Linked DNA regions of Homo sapiens: region 2 is linked to region 1. Evidence: fine-mapped QTL for protein levels in blood plasma. A gene starts in region 1. The other region holds a variant in brackets. All regions are shown on one strand. Distances are from middle to middle. Region 1 holds the start of MAPK9 (mitogen-activated protein kinase 9). Region 2 overlaps GFPT2 (glutamine-fructose-6-phosphate transaminase 2).

Region 1 (10,065 bases):
GGTTTCACCATGTTGGCCAGGATGGTCTCGATCTCTTGACCTCGTGATCCACCTGCCTCGGCCTCCCAAAGCGCTGGGATTACAGGCGTGAGCTGCCATACCGGCCTGGGCTCCTGTTTTCTGTATCTGTGTCTTCCTTCTTCTGAGTTTCCTTTTTTGTTCTGGTGAAGCCCATTCTTGAGAAAAGGTGCTTGAGAGGTGTCTTAAGTCAGTTCAGCCTGCTGTAACAGCCCTGGTGCCTTATAAAAATCCCACATTTCTTTCTCACAGTTCTCAACAGTGGGAAGTCCAAGATCAAGGCACCGGCAGATGTGGAGTCTTGGTGAGGGCCCATTTCCTGGTTTGTACAGAGCAGCCTTCTTGCTGTGTCCTCACATGGCAGAAGGGACAAGGGAGTTCTCTGGAGCCTCTTTGATAAGTGTACTAATCCCATTCATAAGGGCTCCACCCTCACACTCATCACCTCCCAAAGGCCTCACCTCCTAATAACATCACATGTGGCAGGGGTTAGGATTGCAACATATGAATTTGGGGAAACACAAATATTCAGGCCACAACAGAAGGCAAGTTTTTTGAGAATCTGCAGGTGTGGAAATGATTTTTTTATTTATACTTGATAGAGGGTTTAGCTAAACACACAATTCTAGGTCAGAAAAAGGTGTTCCTGCAGAATTTTAAAGGTAGTGCTTCATCGTCTTGTTCCCAGTGCTGCTATTGAGTCCAAAGTCTGATGTCTTTGTAGGTGACCTTTTGGTCTCTTTTTTGTTTCCTGTGTTCTGAAATACCACAAGTTGCCTAGAGCACATTTCATTTAGGGTTGATTGCATCTGGTAACTTTTGCCTTTCAGACTAGGAAATTTTCTTGAATTATTTTGTTGTGGATTTCTCTGTTTCTCTGTCTCTGGAGTGTCTATTATTCCCAGGGTGAAGCTGCTGGACTGGCCTCTAATTTCTTATCTTTTTTATCATTCATTTGTTGTCTTTTTGCCCTACTGAGAGATTTCAATTTTATCTCCCAACCTGCTACTAAGATTTTTCATTTCTGCCAACATGATTTAATTTTTCGAGGGTTTTTTTTTGCTCTGACTATATATATATATATATATATTTTTTTTTTTTTTTTTTTGAGATAGAGTCTCACTTCGTCACCAGGCTGGAATGCAGTGGCGTGATCTCGGCTCACTGCAAGCTCCACCTCCCGGGTTCACACCATTCTCCTGCCTCAGCCTCCTGAGTAGCTGGGACTATAGGTGCCCGCCACCACACCCGGCTAATTTTTTTTGGTATTTTTAGTAGAGATGGGGTTTCACCGTGTTAGCCAGGATGGCCTCGATCTCCTGACCTCGTGATCCGCCCACCTCGCCCTCCGAAAGTGCTGGGATTACAGGTGCGAGCCACTGTGCCCGGCCACAAACTTTTCTATTCTTCCCCATTTATTATTTCTATTAGAATGAACCATAGATATTTATTTTATATTTTGAGTCATGCCCAATACTATGTTAGTTTGTTGTTCCAATGGTTCCAGCAACAGCCACTGGGGGCTCTTTCAGTTGGCTCTTGTGTCTCTTTGACATAGCCCCATCTGTGTGTGTGTGTGTGTGTGTGTGTGTGGTAAGTACTTCCGTGTGTGTGTGTGGGGGGGTACTTCCGTGTGTGTACTTCCTTACGTGTGTGTTGTACTTCCTTGTGTGTGTGTGTGTGTGTGTGTGTGGTAAGTACTTCCGTGTGTGTGTGGGGGGGGGGGTAAGTACTTCCGTGTGTGTACTTTCTTACGTGTGTGTTGTACTTCCTTGTGTGTGTGTGTGTGTGTGTGTGTGTGTTGTAAGTACTTCCTTACCTGCACAACAATATTCTCCAGGCTCGTCTTGTCCATCCCCTGTCCCAGCCCTAGAATCAACCATTTCTCCAGGGATCCCTGGTTCCTTTTATGGCGAATGACATTAGAGAACAAGATCTGGGCTCTGGGTGTGTCAGCCACTGCTGAGATGTCATTGCTTCTAGGCCATCTCAGCTGACAGAGCAAGGCCATGTTGCATACACCTGTGCTGCATAATTTTTAAATGGCTGGTTCTTGTTTGAAGGATGCAATATTTTTTCATTCTCTCTGAAGCTAGCAGTAGTTTTATTTTTATTTTTTGAATTTTCCTTCTCCACAGAGTCTGTTTCTTTCAAGATGCAGTTTTTTGTCTTACTTTTCTTAGCCATATGACATGGAGCTGTCTGTTCAGATTCAAGGGGGGCTGACTGGAAGGTCTAAGGCATGGTAGGGCTGGTTGATGCAGGATTCACTGCTGGGAAATCTGGTGGGGGTGGGGGTGTCATAATGTTCATACCTCAGGTCTTCCCTTCAGGGCTGGTCAGACTTCTGGAGAACAGCTTGCTGGCTCCCTGCCTGAGGACAGTCCCAGCTGCTGGTGCTCTGGGGGATTCCCGGAGGAGGAGGGCTAAGGGCCACTGGGTTCAGCATTCAGTTATACAGCCCCCAAATAACCCTGTTTCCATACAGTGCCACACCCTCAGCTGCGCCCCAGCTCAGATGCCCTCATTCTAATCATCACCATGGAAGAAACTTCCAGACTTCTGCCTTTCCCAATTCTGCCCTTCCCTGCCATGTCCTCACATGAGCCTGTCTGCCCAGCATGGCTGACTAGTTCCAGAATGGAAGCCCTGTCTGGGGGACCATCAGAGTCCATTGTTGTGGGTTTTCAAACTCCATTTGGGCCTGCAGTGGCCTCCATGGCCCTAGAGTTTCCAGACCAGCTCTGCCCCTACCTCCCCTGGGTATGATGTTACAGGCACCTCCCAGTAAACGTCCCCATTGGTTTAAGTGCAGTTTAGTTTTCTACAACACACAGCTGGGACAGCCCCGACTTACACCCTCTAGCACATCTCTGGGTCCTTGTAGGGGAGAAGGGAAGATGTGGGTTAGTGCAATGGGGGGAGGGCAGGCAAAGTGTTGAGGGGACAGAGGCAGTCAGCATAAGGACCTACACCATCCCTGCTGCATGGGCCGCACCCAGCTCTTCCTGCTTCTGTCCTTCTCCATGCCACTTCCTACAGAACCAAGGCAGACAGAAGTGAATCCCTTGCCCAGAGGAGCACAGCTGACAAGAGTCGGATTGGAATCCAGGCCAGTCAAGGGTGGGGGATATCAGGATCACAGAAACCCGTTGGCACTGTGGCTGCATACACAGCTGGCCTCCGGACAGGTCCCCAATGCCCCAGGCACCCCTAGCTCCTCCACCCCGCTGTGCTCTTGTCTTAGTCTGTTTCTTATTCTGTTGCTTATAACAGAATACCTGAAACTGGGTAATTTACTTTAAAAAAGAATTTATTTGTTACAGCCCTGGGGGCTGAGAAGTCCAAGGTTGAGGGGCTGCACCTGGTGAGGGCCTTCTTGCTGCTGGGGACTCTGCAGAGTCCTGAGGGTGGCGCAGGTGTCACATGGCCAGGGGGCGGAGCATATTCACAGGCCAGCTCAGGTCTTCCTTCCTCTTCTAATGAAGTCACCAGTCCCACTCCGGTGATAACCCTTTAATCCATGAATCCATCGACAGGTTAATCCCAACCACGCTTAGAGGCCCCACCTCTCAGTACTGCCACATTGGAGATTAAGTTTGAACATGAGTTTCATTGAGGATAAACATCCAAAACAGCTCATCCCAAATCTAAATGTTTCTTAAATCAACTAATCAATTAAAAAAAGAAAACCTCTCTGGGCTGAACAAGGCGTATCAGTGAGCTAAAGCCAGCCTACATGCCTGGCAGTGCCAATCTACCTCAAGGTCCTCAGAACTCTCCAGTCCCCTCACCTTTCCCTAAGACCAGGTGACTTGTGGCTCCCTGAACACAGCAAGCAGGTCCTCACATCTGAGCATGTGGGCCTGAGCGCCCTTTCTGCCTAAGTCACAGGCCCAACACATCCTGCTCGGCAGCCTCAGCAACAACTTCCTCCTGCCCAGAAGGCCTTCCTCAATTGCTTCTCCCCACCATAGGCCGGATCAGGTGAGACGTGCTCACGTGTCACACCTGGTTCACGTATGTCGTGGCAGGATCTTTTCACTTGGAGGGTTCAACCAGGATTCTTGGTGCTGTTCCAAGGCCCCCCTCCCCACCCTGTCACCTCAGCTTTGTGTCCATAAATGTTCACTGTATTTCATAAACCAGAAAAAAAGCAGTGTCTCTGCAATAAAAAGAACTCTTACAGAAAACTTAGTGTGAGATATGTATAGCTGTGTACATATGTACACTGATTTTTGGTTACTCACTTGACATGATGTGAGTGCTATGAAGTTAGGCCTGGAGTGCTGGGAACTGGTGTCCCCTCTGTTTTTTTGTTTTTATTTTTTTGAGATGCAGTTTTTGCTCTGTTGCCCAGGCTGGAGTGCAGTGGAGCAATCTCGGCTCACTGCAACCTCTGCCTCGTGGATTCAAGTTATTCTCCTGCCTTGGTTTCCTGAATAGCTGGAATTACAAGCACCCATCACCACGCCCAGCTAATGTTTGTATTTCTAATAGAGATGACGTTTCACCATGTTGGCCAGGCTGGTCTCGAACTCCTGGCCTCAGGTGATCCACTCACCTCGGCGTCCCAAAGTACTGGGATTACAGGTGTGAGCCACCGCACCGCCTTCCTAATGAGAAGCACCCATCAGTGCTCCTTGGTGGAACCTCAGATCTGACAGCTAGGCTTTTACTCTTTTCCCATAATCCTCGATCCTGACAATTTCTGGTTTCCTGTTCTCTCTCATGCACTTGAGGCAGGTGGCAGGTGAGTCTGAGGTAGCGACAGGTGTGGGCCCTCCTCAATGCAGGCCACACTGTGACGTAGAATTTCAAGCAGCGATGAGCCATGCTCAAATTTAGAAAACTCCCTCTGGTGGCCAAGGGGGACACCATGCTGGATCCGTTCCTCTACCCCACCCCTCCTCTGAGGCTCTGGTGCCTCCAAGCGGCCTGGCCCAGACCTCAGTGCCCTTGGAACCTGGGTCACAGGCTAGCTGCCCTCCCCAAATTCTGCAACCACCCTTCACGCCACCCAGCCCCTTACCCTCCCCATCTGCAGAGTCCTGTTCCTTCTCCCCACTCTGGCCCTGGCCACTCTGTGGATCCTGGTATTGTGTTACTGCTGTTCTACACCACACTCACCATTTGTCAACCATTGTTCCCACTCTTCTAGTCCCCAAAGGCCGGCTCTCCACGGTTTTCCCCATGTGCCCAGCCTCAGTGCCTCTCTTCCTGCTTCACTTTTCAACGTAGATCTGGCAACATCCCAAGCCCCGGCCTCTCCCATCCTGTACGACCCCCAGGCCGCTGGTACCTGATCCAGCCTCAAAAGCAGCTCAGAGTCAACGGGTCCCAGTCCCTAGGGGGCTCTGAGCAAGAGACTCCTCGCCCCGCCCCCCACTCCTCTCAGAGGCTTGACTGAGCACCTCCCTTTTTTTTTTTTTTTTTTTTTTTTTTTTTTTTTTTTTTTTTGAGAGAGTCTCACTCTGTCACCCAGGCTGGAGTGCAATGGCGCAATCCCGGCTCACTGCAACCTCCGCCTCCCAGGTTTAAGTGATTCTCCTGCCTCAGCCTCCCGAGTAGCTGGGATTACAGGCGCCCGCCACCACGCCCAGCTCATTGCTTCGTATTTTTAATAGAGACGGGGTTTCACCAGGTTAGCCAGGCTGGTCTCGAACTCCTCACCTCAGGTAGTCCACCCGCCACGACCTCCCAAAGTTCTAGGATTACAGGCGTGAGCCACCGCGCCCTGCCGCACCTCCTAATTTTTAGATGTTGTCAACTAAGTGATCCCGCCACCAAGCGCAGTCTCCTCCTGCGTCACCGACCCACCGGGTCACCTGTCTACACACCGCCATCTCTTCGCACCCCCTCCCCCTCTTCGACCCGGCTTCTGGCCTCACCCACACCCCCATAGACCCGTTCCTCCGGCGCCGCAGCGAGCAACCGAGTGCGAGGCCCGCCCCGCCTACCGGGCCCTAGCACGCCGGGCTCCCGGACGCCAGGCCGGCCTCCCCCCGCGATCGCCCCGGGCTCTCCCCGAAACGGGCGGGCTCCCGTGCCGCTCCAGTCGCCTCACCGCCACAAGCCTGCACCTGCAGCCCGAGGCCCGGCTCCCCGCGGACCCCGCGGTGTGAGCCCCGCGCGCCTCCAGCCCGGTTCCCGGTCCTCCGGGCCACCCTCTCCACCGAGCTGCGCCCCCCTCGCAGGGAGAGCGGGCTCAGCCGGTGGGCCGCGCAATGCCTGCGTCTCCAGCTCACCGCGTGCACTGCGCGCACCCGAGCGCCATGGCCACTCGGCCCGCGCCACTGAAAGGCCCGGGGGCGAAGAACCCGCGGAACCCCGGCCCAGGACCTCGGGCGCCCGACCCGGCCCCCGACCCCGCCCGCGCCACCCTCCATCGGCCCGCCCCCCAGGCGCCATTGGCCGCGCCTGCTCCGCTCTCCGCGCGCTGATTGGTCGGCGCGAGGGTCTGTCAGACCGGGCGCCGCGGCGGCGGCAGCGGCGGAGAAGGGAGCGGGACCGGAAGGGTCGCAGCGCCCCGGCGCCCCTCACACCCACTGCGGCGGCGGCGGCGGCGGCGGCGGCGGGGCGGAGCGGAGCGGGGCGGGCCGGCGGCGGAGCCGGGGCCGCGGAGCCAGGAGTGACTAGCACGCAGCGCCGCCAGTCCGCCCGCCCGCCCTCTCCCCGTGGCGCGGCGGCGGGGAGGCGAGGTGAGCCCGGCGGGCGGGCTAGGCCTGGCGGCGGCTGCTCGGGCCGGGCCCGCGGGGAGGGGCGGTGAGGGAACCGCGCGGCCGGGGGCTTCGGGGCGGGCCGGGGGCTGCGGGGCCCTGGCAGCCGCAGCCGTCGCCCCTGTGCTGGGGGATGCCGCAGGCGCCCCCTTCCGCCCGGCTGTCAGCAGCCCCGGGCTGCGGGCCTGCTCACCGGCCTGGCCCGGCCGACCTGCCCGTGGGGTCTGCGGGCGCCATCCCTCCCGGAGGTGGGGCAGACAGCTGCACTCCTGCGCCGGGTGCCCAGGGGCCCGGGGTCGCGTCCCCGCGACCTTGGCCAAGGCACTGACCCTCGCTCTGCCGCGGTTTTGCCTTCGGGAAGGTGGGGAAATGTCTCTTCTGGACAGGGTTGTTGTCAGGCTGTGTGAATGTATGCAGACGCCTGGGCAGGACCCCGGTGTGCATCTGTGGAAGACTGGGCAGGGTGCTGGCCCGTGCTGGTGTGAGTGGTGTAGGAACCCCCTCCCCACCCGCCCAGCCTCCCGCCTCCCCGCGCACTCCTCTCTTGCCTTGTCATTGCACACTCGGTGTCCAGCAGTGCCAGAGGGGACCCAGCCCGAATCCCTTACCACCGCGCCCCTCCCCCAGAAGACTGCTGCCCCGTCCCACTCATCTCGCCCGCCTTGAACATGCCAGCCCGCATTTGCCCCAGGACCTTTGCATTTGCTGTTTCCCCGTCTTTGGAGTTGTCTCCGTGATCTTGGCACAAGTAGCTCTTTCTGCTCCTTCCTCTGGTCAGATGTCTCGTTTTGGGTGAGGCCCTCCTCGACCACCCTCTTTCTTCCCTTAGTCATGCTATTTCATTATTTAAAAAATTTCCTTCCTAGCTCTCATCTGGTTTGAAACTATTCTATTTATTTGCCTGCTTATTTTCTGTCTCCCCGACTAGGATGTAACTTTGTGAAAACAGGTAGCTGTCTGATTTGTCCACTGCTTTATCCCCAGTGCTTAGAAAGCACACAGGAAGTATTCAGTAGTATCAGCTCAATGAATGAATGAATGATCAAAGAAATGGCCCAGCCTGCCTGTTGTCTCTGCTTTATCTGTTCATTTAGTGACTTCTGATTAGCGTGTGAAACTTGTAAGCAGATGGAAGCTTGTTCTATTTTGTGAAACATTTTGGTGTCCTTGACCCCTTTAATTGCTAACTGTTGGAACAAGCTGTGATATAAAATCTCACATTTTTATAATAGTTTAGCTGTAGCTTTCTTCCACACATACAAGAGACATTTACTGAATTCTGCATTATCTAGGTCATGCTTTCTGCTAGACCCTACGGACACAAGGCAGATAGCAACGGGGTCCCTTTCCCGAGAGAGCCCAGGAGCCCAGTAGAGAAGGCAGGCATGCAGACACTTAGTTCCAGGACTGTACAACCCTTGCTATAGGGGAGGGGCTATGCCATGGAAATGTGGAGGAGGTGACAGGTGGTGCTGGGGGGCCTTGAGGGTGATAAGAAATTTGCTAGGCAGGGAGAGGCACAGAGGTGTGAAGGAGCAGGGCCAAGGAAGGACCGTAGGCCACTGTGGAGTTGAGAATCAGTCTGGAGGGCCAGGTGTAAGGACACAGAGTCGTGGGGACCCTAAAGAACAGGAACCTTACCCAGCAGTTTTCTAGAAGAAGGTGGAATTTGGCTGGGTGCCATGGCTCACGCCAGTAATTTCAAGACACTTTGGGAGGCTGATGTGGGAGGATCACTTCAGGCCAGGAGTTCAAGACCAGCCTGGGCAACGTAGCGAGATCTGTCTCTACAAAAAATTTTAAGAAATTAGCTAGGTGTGGTGGCATCCACCTGTAGTCCTAGCTGCTTGGGAGGCTGAGGTGGAAGGATCCCATGAGCCCAGGATTTGGAGCCTGCAGTGAGCTATGATCACACCACTGTGCTCCAGCCTGGGTGACAGAGCAAGACCCTGTCTCTAAAAAGGAAGGCAGCACTCCACATTTGTTCTGATTTTTAAATGTTGGCAATAGCTAATTAAATTTTTTTTTAATGCTGTGAGCCAAGCCAAATACAGATTCATTCAGCTTGGTTGCAGGATCGTCATCCTCCAGGACTGGCTGTGTGGGAGGGAGGAGCTGTGAGGAGAGCAGGAAAGGTAGCCTAAGGCCAGGGGAGCCAGGCCCTGTTTGCCCAGGTGCCAGCCCAGATACTCATTTGATTGTAACTGGAGCCCTGTGGAAACGGAAGCTCAGGAGTCTAAGTAGTCTGTTTCTTAGCAAGCAGCTGGTGAGTGGAGTTCGAACCCAGATCACTTCCCAGATAAGGATTCTTTCCTGGGTCCCTCAGCTCTGAGTATTCTCTTTTGGCTTTTAACTTGTTCTGGAAGAATGACCACCAATCTATTTAATGTTTTCCTCCATTTAACTTTTTTTTTTCTTCAAAAGGATCCTGCAGAGTTAAAAACAATACTATTTTTGCATAGACTTCTCTTTTGACAGCTTTGATTTTCCTGGCAATTTAATTTTCAGGGTGCCAGGACTTTAATTTGTTCACAGATTAAAATCTGTTTATTTGGTCCCGTAAATAAACAACAGAGGGGATACTTGAATGTGTCTAAGATAAAATATTCTTAATTTTCTGGATAAAGAAAAGGACCAGACAAACCAGTTAATAGCGAGTAAACCAGTTGTTTTCATGAGGCATAAGATAAAACAGAGACCAGATTTTTTTTCTTCTTGAGACTATTGATTTGCCAATAGGGCAACTATTTTTGGTCTACATACATACAGTAGTTACACCTCACACTTGGTTAGGAAGGTGCCATTTTTACATAATTTTCCTTCAGAATAATTAATTCCTGATACTTTGTACTTGATTGTATGAACCAGTTTCAACATCATTCTTTTTATTTTAACTTTTATTATGGGAACTTTCAAACATATACAAAATAAACAGAATAGTGTCCTGCTTTAACAGTTATTAACTCCTGACCAATCTTGTTTCATCTCTAATGGTATCCACTTGCACCCTTACCACCCATAATTATTTTCAAGCAAATCCTAAATATCATGTCATTTCATTCATTATTTTTTGGGATACTAATTACACAGTGGGTGCCCAGTAAATGTTTGGTAAAGACAAAGCTAAATGGGAGAATAAATGTGGTAGGGTAGCTCGGAGCAGTGGGTAAGATCAGGACTTTGAGTCAGACTCCCAGTGGGTCTGCTGCTTATCTGGGTGATGTGCAGAAGCGATTGCACTCATCTGTAAAACATACGGGCACAACCTCAGGGTGCTCAGGAGGTGTACAGTAGTTATACTTCACACTTCGGTAGGTCTCTAAAGGTA
Region 2 (10,077 bases), 14 kb before region 1:
GTGATCTCGCCACTGCACTCAGGCGTGAGCAACAGAGTAGACCCTGTCTCAAAAATAAAAGTTGATTTAAAAAGTGAAAATAAGGTCCCTGCCACCTCCTTCTTTGTGCACAGGCTTATACCAGTCAGTTCATCTCTCTGGTGATGTTTGGTTTGATGATGTCTGAAGACCGAATTTCACTACAAAACAGGAGGCAAGAGATCATCCGTGGCTTGAGATCTTTACCTGGTATGTTCTAGAATTCAGCTTTCCATGTTTTCAGATCTAGTGGACTGTTGCTGGCCATTCTCTGTTGACTCTCACCTGTACAGGATGTTGTTCATTTCTTCTTCCTCCTAAAACTTCCTAGCTTCCCCAACTCCCTCCTGGAGGCCTTGCTGCCTCTGACCTCATCCTGCTCGGCCCCCACCTCCCCCTGCGCTGCCGCGCTGCCTCCCTGCCTCCCTGCCTCCCTGCCTCCCCGCCTCCCTGGTCCTCAGCCTCCCTGCCTCCCTGGTCCTCAGCCTCCCTGCCTCCCTGGTCCTCAGCCTCCCCGCCTCCCTGCCTCCCTGGTCCTCAGCCTCCCTGCCTCCCTGGTCCTCAGCCTCCCCGCCTCCCTGCCTCCCTGCCCCTCAGCCTCCCCACCTCCCCGCCTCCCTGCCTCCCTGCCCCTCAGCCTCCCCACCTCCCTGCCTCCCTGGTCCTCAGCCTCCCTGCCTCCCTGGTCCTCAGCAGTGCTCAGTGCTTTCTCACCGCAGGGCCTTCGCACTGGCTCTTTACTCTGCTGAACCATCTTCTTCCTGCTCTGCATACAGCCGACAGCTTCTCATCTCCCAAACCTCAGCTCAAATGTCACCTCCTGAGACCCTCCCTGGCCATGCTCACAGAGGCCCCGACGCCAGCACTCTGTGAAACATTAGCCTGTTTATTTTTTTCATAACACACCTCATGACCTGAAATTCCCTGTTCACCTGTTGACTGGCCTGTCTCCCCCAACTAACATGTCGGCTCCGTGAACACACAGCTCTGTCTGCCAGAGCTGCCACTGGACAGCTGGTGTCCAGCACAGGGCAGGCATACAGTAGGTGCTCAGTAAGTACTCGAGAAAGAGCAAATGGCCCCAGGTCCTTCCTATGCCAGGCGCTCCTTGGCAGCCCCACCACACTTTCCCCGTTTGCTGGGCAGCAGCAGTCGCAGCTGTCGTAGCTGGTGAGATACAATATCTGTTGCACTAAATCATGACCTCCTTGGGGACCGTGGCCTCCCCTTTCTTCATTCATCCACCACATATATTAAGAACCAGTGCCGTGCCCTGTCCCATGTGCTATCCCTGGCCTGCCAAGATAAGCAGCAGCTCACCTCCTTCAGTCACTCACATGCCAGAGTAGGAGAGAGACTTCTGTGCAGGCCTGAGAGGCGGAGATGAATCGAGCCTCGCCCCAGGCTGGCATGGAACGCTCACTGCGGACAGGACATCATGGGGCTTCTGGGGAGTGCCCTCCCAGAGACAGAGTGGACGCTGGAGCTTCCCTGGGAGCCAGGGCCAAACCCCAGAGCAGGCAGTTGGGGAAGGGCCATCATAGAGAATGGTCAATTCCAGGCCCTCGGGGCCTGACACTGGCCGAGACAGCTTGCTGAAAGTTTATTTCTGAGAAAAGCATTCTTCCTTTAAGCCAGGTCATAACCATGCAAAACAGGACCCAATTCTGACGTCTAAGTCAGTGGTTCTCCAGATGTGGTCCACAGGTCCTGGGTGTCTGCAAAGCCCTTTGAACAAAATTGTTCACATAGTAATACATTCTTTATACTAAAAATTTTTTTTTTTTTTTTTTTTTTTTTTTTTTTTGCCTGTGTCCACATTTGCAAAGGCAGTGGTGGCTGTGCCCGGCACCCAGCACACTAGAAGGCCTACTGGTCATTGTGTCCTTCACCAGCACACACCCAGTTTCCCTTAAGAATGGCCTTGATGGCCGGGCGCGGTGGCTCACGCCTGTAATCCCAGCACTTTGGGAGGCTGAAGTGGGCGGATCACCTGCGGTCAGGAGTTCGAGACCATCCTGGTCAACATGGTGAAACCCCATCTCTACTAAAAACACAAAAAGCAGCTGGATGTGGTGGCAGGTGCCTGTAATCCCAGCTACTCGGGAGGCTGAGGCAGGAAAATCACTTGAACCCAGGAGGCAGAGGTTGCAGTGAGCCAAGATTCTGCCACTGCACTCCAGCCTGGGCAACAGAGTGAGACTCCATCTCAAAAAACAAAAAAGAATGGCCTTGATGGTGAGGCGCAGTGGCTCACGCCTGTAATCTCAGTACTTTGGGAGGCCGAGGTGGGCAGATCGCCTGAGGTCAGGAGTTCGAGACCAGCCTGGCCAACATGGTGAAACCCCATCTCTACTAAAAATACAAAAATTAGCTGGGCGTGCTAGTGGGTGCCTGTAATCCCAGCTACTTGGGAGGCTGAGGCAGGAGAATTGCTTGAACCCAGGAGGCGGAGATTGCAGTGAGCCGAGATTGTGCCATTGTACTCCAGCCTGGGCGACAAGAGCGAGACTTCATCTCAAAAAGAAAAGGCTGGGCACGGTGGCTCATGCCTGTCATCCTAGCACTTTGGGAGGTCGAGGCAGGCAGATCATGAGGTCAGGAGATCGAGACCATCCTGGCTAACATGGTGAAACCCCGTCTCTACTAAAAATACAAAAAATTAGCCGGGCGTGGTGGTGGGCACCTGTAGTCCCAGCTACTCGGGGGGCTGAGGCAGAAGAATGGCGTGAACCTGGGAGGCAGAGTTTGCAGTGAGCCGAGATCGCACCACTGCACTCCAGCCTGGGTGACAGAGTGATACTCCATCTCAAAAAAAAAAAAGGAATGGCCTTGATGAGGTGGTAAAAATTATTAGTCTGTAAATTGCAACTCTTTGTAATATCCTTTATGATGAAATGGGGAGTACACGTAGCGCCTTTCTACTGGGGCCAGGCGTGGTGGCTCATGCCTGTAATCCCAGCACTTTGGGAGGCCAAGGCGAGCGGATCACCTGAGGTCAGGAGTTCGAGACCAGCCTGACCAACGCAGTGAAACCCCATCTCTACTAAAAATAGCTGGGTGTGGTGGTGTGCGCCTTTAATCCCAGCTACTTGGGAGGCTGAGTCAGGAGAATCACTTGAACCTGGGAAGCAGAGGTTGCAATGAGCTGAGATCACGCCGTTGCACTCCAGTCTGGGCAACAAGAGCAAAACTCCGTCTGGAAAAAGAGAAAAAGCCTTTCTGCTCTACACTGAAGTGTGATGCTTGTCTCAAGAGAAGCAGCCATCCCATTGAGTAGCAAGCTGATTTTGGTGTTTGTTAGACATTTTCTCAAAATGAAAAATCAGCTGACGCATCAGTAGAAGCAACCCATGGTATTTGTTGCCAATGATAAACTTTAAGCTCCCAGGCAAAACTTTTGAGTGTTAGAAAACACCTCTGTTACCATGAGCTTGACCAGTTCCTAACATTTAAAGACTTCTCTAGGGCCGGGCACGGTGGCTGATGCCTGTAATCCCAGCACTTTGGGAGGCCGAGGTGGGTGGATCATGAGGTCAGGAGTTCAAGACCAGCCTATCCAAGATGGTGAAACCCCATCTCTACTAAAAATATTTAAAAAATTTAGCTGGGTGCAGTGGCAGGCACCTGTAATCCCAGCTACTCAGGAGGCTGAGGCAGGAGAATCACTTGAACCCGGGTGGCCGAGGTTACAGTGAGCCGAGATCGTGCCACTGCACCCCAGGTTGGGTGACAGAGTGAGACTCTGTCTCAAAAAAAAAAAAAAGTCTTCTCTGATGAGATCAAGGTGACTTCAACAAGGTGATTTTTAAAGAACATTTTATAATAAAAGTGTCCATTTTAAGAAGATTTACATACCTTTGTGGCCAGTTCACGATGTCACAGAGTTATGCACTTGTAAATGATCCATTTAAAAGCACAAGACAGAAAAATAAATTTTAACCTAACAAAGTAGAAAAAGTTTATTGATAGGATTTCAGATTCTATATTGGCACCTACCCTTTCAAGAACCTACTGTTTCTCAAGTTTGATGTACTGTGGTGTCAAAGAACAATATTCACAATTATTTGTAAAATAATTTAAATACTCCTCGCTTTTCCAACTACAAATCTGTATTTGTAGGCTGAATTTTATTTTTATACTTCAACCAAAAGAGCTTATCACCACAGATTGAATGTGAAAGCAGATATTAGAGTCAACAGTCTTTTATTAAAAAGGCAGACACTAAAAAGATTTGCAAGAACAAAAAGCAGTGCCATTCTTCTCACTAATTCTTGTTGGAAATGAAGTAATGTAATAGATTTAGTGTTGTTATTTTAAAGTGAATATTTTTAAATTTCTCATTGTTAGTTTCTTTCTTTCTTTTTCTTCTTTTTTTTTTTTCGAGATGGAGTCTCGCTCTGTTGCCCAGGCTGGAGTGCCGTGGTGCCATCTCAGCTCACTGCAAGCTCCGCCTCCCAGGTTCACGCCACTCTCCTGCCTCAGCCTCCCGAGTAGCTGGGACTACAGGCGCCCGCCACCATGCCCGGCTAATTTTTTGTATTTTTAGTAGATACCAGGTCTCACCATGTTAGCCAGGATGGTCTCGATCTCCTGACCTCGTGATCCGCCTGCCCCAGCCTTCCAAAGTGCTGGGATTACAGGCGTGAGCCACCGCACCCAACCACGCCCGGCTAATTTTTTGTATTTTTAGTAGAGACGGGGTTTTACCATGTTAGCCAGGATGGTCTCGATCTCCTGACCTCATGATCCACCCGCCTCGGCCTCCCAAAGTGCGGCGATTACAGGCGTGAGCCACCACGCCTGGTCCTCAGTGTTATTTTCTAATCTGGTAAATGTTGACAGATTTAACTCAAAAACAAAGGCTCTTGGGGATGTGCAATAATTTGAGGGACTTGCAATAATTTTCAAGAGTGTAAAGGAGTCCTGAGACCAAAGGGTTTGAGAACCGGTGGTCCCACTTACAGGGGCCTTGTCTTGAGACACAGCAGGAAAGAGGGGTGTTAACTGGTGGTGTCAGCTCTGTCTCCAGTGGGTGATTTTTGCCTCTCTGAGCCTCAGTTGTCTTACCTGCAAAACGGAGTGAGAAATGGTACTTCCTACCTTGTTGGTGCTCAAGAAAGTGTTCACACAACACGAATCCCCATCCTAACAGAATCCTGGCCAGGAGCCCAAGTTATTTCCTGTAATCTACGTTTGAAACGAATGCGAGGAAGCAAAGTGTGCTAAGTGATGCGGTTTCAAAAGCTCCTCTTAAACCCCAGCATTTGTCTTCATGAATATTGCTTTAAAGTCGGCCTGACTGGTTTTCTCCCTCTGCTCCGTGC[A/G]TGGCCCAGAGCTGATCAAGGAAGTGCTGTCTCTGGAGGAGAAGATCCACGACTTGGCCCTGGAGCTCTACACGCAGAGATCGCTGCTGGTGATGGGGCGGGGCTACAACTATGCCACCTGCCTGGAAGGAGCCCTGGTGAGCCCCCACCCCCAGCCCCCACCCCCACGGAGGACAGGCACAGGAGACCCTGAGGAGCCAGCGGGAAGGAGGGCAGGGCGTTGGGCTTGGGGAGGGCCGGGCCTAAGGACCCCTTGGCCAGTCCTGTGAGCCTGCGCTGAGCACCAGCTCTCCACCAGGTTTCTAGCCCTGGGCACACAGAGATGGGTGAGGCAGGTGCCTGCCCCCAGGGATCTCCCAATCTACTGAGGAGAAAGGGACAGGGCGCCTGGGGTGTGCCCCTCCGGCTGTCCAGGCACTGCCAGGGTCCACTTGGAACAGCTCACTCAGACCTCATGAGCTGCTTCTGAGAGGTTGGCGGTTGCTATTCACCCTCATTCAGGAGGAAACAAAGCCTCTGAAAGCTTAAGTATCTCACTCAAGATGACGTAGGGGACCCGAATCAGACCTGAGTCCATGGGGCCTTCGCTTTTTTCCACCAAAATTGAGGGGTGGGTTCTCCGCAGAGTTTCCTTGTTACCCCTCAAACTTCCAAGGGGAGTTTGAGATCCTGCAGGAATTAACTTCGAAGGCCTTGCTTTTTCAAAAATTGGTGACAGGCCATTTGCCCCCTGCAGCATTAAAGATCCACGCCAGGAAAGAGAAAGCTGATGGGGCAGGGACAGGGTGCCAGGGCCACAGGGCTGCCCAGAGGGTGGGCAGAGAGCCGTGCAGGGTCCTGCATCTCGGACTTGCCCTTTCCTCGCTGTCAGCATGCCATGCACGGAGCAGATGCTCAGCCCAGGTGACGGGGACAGTGCTCCAGCTGAGGCTGCACTGGCCACCAAGACGAGGGCATTAACCGTGGCCCAGCTGGGCTGCCATCCTCTCCCATCTCCTCCCCACCACCCCCATTTGAAAGACAATGCTAGGCTGGCACAGTGGTCCACGCCTGTAATCCCAGCACTTTGGGAGGCCAAGGCAGTCAGATCATTTGAGGTCAGGAGTTCGAGACCAGCCTGGACAACATGGTAAAAGCCCATCTCTACCAAAAATTCAAAAACTAGCTGGGCGTGGTGGTGCACGCCTGTAATCCCAGCTACATGGGAGGCTGAGGCAGGAGAATCGCTTGAATCCAAGAGGAGGAGGTTGCAGTGAGCCAAGATCATGCCACTGCACTCCAGCCTGGGAGACAGAACGAGACTCCCATCTCAACGAAAAAAAAAAAAAAGAAAGAAAGAAAAAAAAAAGAAAGACAATGCCAGTTACAAGTGGTTACCGGAAACATTCAGAGTTGATTTCCTTGGTCTTGGTGGGGAGTGCAGGGCTGTCCTCACTGAGCTCCATCTCCTGCACCTGCCCCCTGGAGATTCTGACTCCTGTTAAAGAACAGGCAGGTGCTGCTTCTTGGAGTGCAGTAGAGGCAAGGCCTGGGGTGCACTGTCAGTCCCCAGATGACTCTGCGTCATGGGTGGGGGCTGAGCTGCGGTGGCTGAACGTGCTGGCGGGAGATGCACATTGCAGCTATGCCTCCGCATGAGTCTGCTGAAGGAAGAAGCGTTTAGGTGGCTGCTGGCACGAGCCCATGGTCCTCTGGTCACTGGGAGGCCGGCACTGCAGCTGTCTGCGCCTCCAGACTGGAGCCGCACTCCTTACAGTGTGGCCCTGACCTAAATCAGCAGTGCTAGCGGGGAGTCGAGAGATGATTTATTTGACTGTCTCACCATTTCAATGACGTGGATTTGTGGTAACTGAATAGAGATGGATCTACCTGAACACAGGAAAAAAATTAATTCAAATAACACCCCAGTTTGTGTGATTTTGCTTGGAACCACTCTTTAGAAGTTATTAATGGGCAAATGCTTAATCAGATAATTAACTGAAGGTGTAGCTAAGCTGAATACGATGCTGTCGTTATACACGTGGCTGGCTAGGGAGGAGCAGGGGGTGAGCTAGGCTGACTCCGACTTGTTTGTCCTAAGGGGTGGCTGTGCGTGGGACTGGAGAGAGACAACAGCAGTGCCCGGGGCTGGTGTGGGGACACAGAGGTTGTGTCCCGGGCTGGTGCATGCTCTGGATGGTAGCCAGGCCTCTCCCCAGGCCCTTGCTGGGTGTCCTCAGTGCTGTCAAGCACTCCAGGCATCTGTCTGCCTTGCAACCCTTGGCTCTCTGCCTTCCAGAGTCATCCTTCCCCTGGTTCCCCTTCTTCCCCTCTGGCTGATCTGCTCCAGCCCCATCTGCCCAGTGTGACTCTGATCTCACCTCCTGTTTCCAGAAAATTAAAGAGATAACCTACATGCACTCAGAAGGCATCCTGGCTGGGGAGCTGAAGCACGGGCCCCTGGCACTGATTGACAAGCAGATGCCCGTCATCATGGTCATTATGAAGGATCCTTGCTTCGCCAAATGCCAGAACGCCCTGCAGCAAGTCACGGCCCGCCAGGTGAGGGCTCTCCACTGGACTGGGCCAGCTCTCTCCTGCTTTTCCCCATGCATGCCCACCTCACCACTGTCTGCCAGTACCAGTGATGGATGGTCTGGCCAGTGAGTGGCTGTGACCACACACCCTCCCCCGGGCCGCCTGTGGGGAGTGCACACACTTGGAAAGGAGCTGGTCAGCCCGCAGCTGTCCCACACAGCTCTTTGGTGGGGCCCAGGGACCCACACTGCTGTGAGCAGCACCAGATCCTAGCCTGGAGCTCAGGGGAGGTACTCCTGGTGGACATCCCTGGGGCAGGGTTTCCCCAGGTTCTGCGGCCAAGCAGCTCCGATGGGAACTACCTGGAGTTAGGTCAGGTCTCATAGGGCAGGGGCACAGCTTTCCATAAGACTGCCCTCGATTCAGGCACCTGTTGCAAGCCAGGGGTCCACCCACACATCTGAGCAACTGACTATGAATCCAAGGATTCCCACTCTCCCCTGAAGTTCAGTAATTTTCTAGAACGACCCATAGAACTCAGGAGATGACTATATGATTACAGTTTTATTATAAAAGATATAAATCACAGCCAACCCAAAAGAAGAGACCCCTAGTTTGAGGGCCCCAGATGTGAAGCTTGTGTCCTCAGGATGTGTCACCCTCCCAGCACGTCACTGTGTGTCGCCCGGGAGCTCCCCTGAGCTGCTAGCTCCAGTGTCCAGAGTTTGTATTGTGGTTTTATTAAGTAGGCAGGATGGAGTGAACCATTGGCCATGTGATCAAACTCAGTCGCCAGCCCCACTTTTGTCCTTGGAGGTTGGGAGGTCAGACTGACAGGCTCATGTCTCAAAGCCCCAACCTTCTAATCATGTGGCTGGCCTTTCTAGCAGGGCCAGACGCCATCCTGGAACTATCTACAGGCCCACCACGAGTCGTCACCTTAGCATAAAGTTAGGTATAGTCCAAGGGACCTCCCATAAATAACAAAGATGCTTTTGTCACATGGGAAAGTCCAGAAGCCAGGAGCTCCCTTCCTGGAACCGGCCACAAAGACCAACCAAATGCTTTGTACACAGCAGCTGCCCTGAGGTAGGAGGGCAGAGTTCATGAAGTTTCGGGGAGGTGAAATCCAATGAGGTGCCCCATCCAGATGTTGCCACCTGGCTCAGCACAGAGGTCAGAGTGAGGGTATAAAACACAATGGCATCATTTCCCCACTTAAAACCCTCCCATACCTGCCTGTCAAGCCACAGAGACCCACAGTCCTGCGTTATCTGGCCCTTTCCTCCTGTTTCAGTGAGTTCCAGGCACTCCAGCTTTCCTTCTGCGTCCCACTCTCATTGCGCCCGCGCCCGCCTCCGGGCCTTTGCGCTGGCCGCTCCTGCTGTCTGGAATGCCCTTCCCACAGAATGCTCCGCCGAGGGTTGTCCCCTCATCATTTAGGGTTCAGTCCAGATGTCTCCTGTTTTTGAGAGAGCTTTGGAGACCTCACCAGTCTCCCAATGACATTATCCTGTTTTCTAGCCTTGGTGGCATTTCTTTGGAATTCATTTTTTTTTTTTTTTTGTGACGGAGTCTGGCTCTGTCGCCCAGGCTGGAGTGCAGTGGCGCCATCTCGGCTCACTGCAAGCTCCGCCTCCCAGGTTCACGCCATTCTCCTGCCTCAGCCTCCCCAGTAGCTGGGACTACAGGCCCCCGCCACCACACCCGGCTAATTTTTTGTATTTTTTAGTAGAGACAGGGTTTCACCATGTTAGCCAGGATGGTCTCGATCTCCTGACCTCGTGATCCACCCGCCTCAGCCTCCCAAAGTGTTGGGATTACAGGCGTGAGCCACCACGCCCGGCCTGGAATTCATCTTTATTTCTTGGTTTGCTTGTCTAGGTTTTTGTTTTCTACCACTAGACTATGAGCCCCGCTAGAGTTAGGAGTGAGTCTGCCCCGCTCTCGGCAAGGCACAAATGGGTGCCAAATGATGCAGCAGGATGGCAATCTCCTTACCAGGGAAGGGGAAGAAACCCCCAAAAAGCATCAGACACTTTATCCTTTCCAAGCATTTGTGTCCCACACATACCACCTCACCCATGACTCCAGCAAATGCAAAAGAGGACTGTTCTCATCACAGTAATGTAGCTTCCAGATACTCTGTATGCATCAGGGATAGCTTCTTTCAGAGAGGGTCTATTTTATGATGCTATTTCTCTGCTCTAGGGTC

Evidence for each region. PIP is the chance, under the fine-mapping model, that this variant and not a neighbour inherited with it causes the effect. The UK Biobank Pharma Proteomics Project read protein levels with antibody pairs (Olink). The fine-mapping took linkage between variants from a reference panel, not from the people measured, so its PIPs are less certain.
Region 2: its variant is fine-mapped to the plasma level of the MAPK9 protein (UK Biobank, PIP 0.90).

The regions. Positions count from the first base shown.
Region 1 is chr5:180,288,502-180,298,566 of GRCh38, reverse strand. MAPK9 (mitogen-activated protein kinase 9) reads left to right here and starts at 6,484. Exons shown (of 12, transcript NM_002752.5): 1 at 6,484-6,719. It overlaps LOC124901151 (a long non-coding RNA gene), which reads right to left and starts at 6,335. Exons shown (of 2, transcript XR_007059085.1): 1 at 6,267-6,335; 2 at 3,314-3,596. RefSeq lists an enhancer at 5,364-6,006 and silencers at 5,929-6,268, 6,279-6,648, 6,779-6,968.
Region 2 is chr5:180,302,581-180,312,657 of GRCh38, reverse strand. It overlaps GFPT2 (glutamine-fructose-6-phosphate transaminase 2), which reads left to right. Exons shown (of 19, transcript NM_005110.4): 15 at 114-228; 16 at 5,355-5,482; 17 at 7,719-7,886; 18 at 10,074-10,077. Among named protein-coding and RNA genes, the nearest start is that of MAPK9, 16 kb to the right of the region's middle. RefSeq lists enhancers at 5,719-6,232, 6,233-6,747. The variant A/G (reference allele first, on the strand shown) is at 5,346.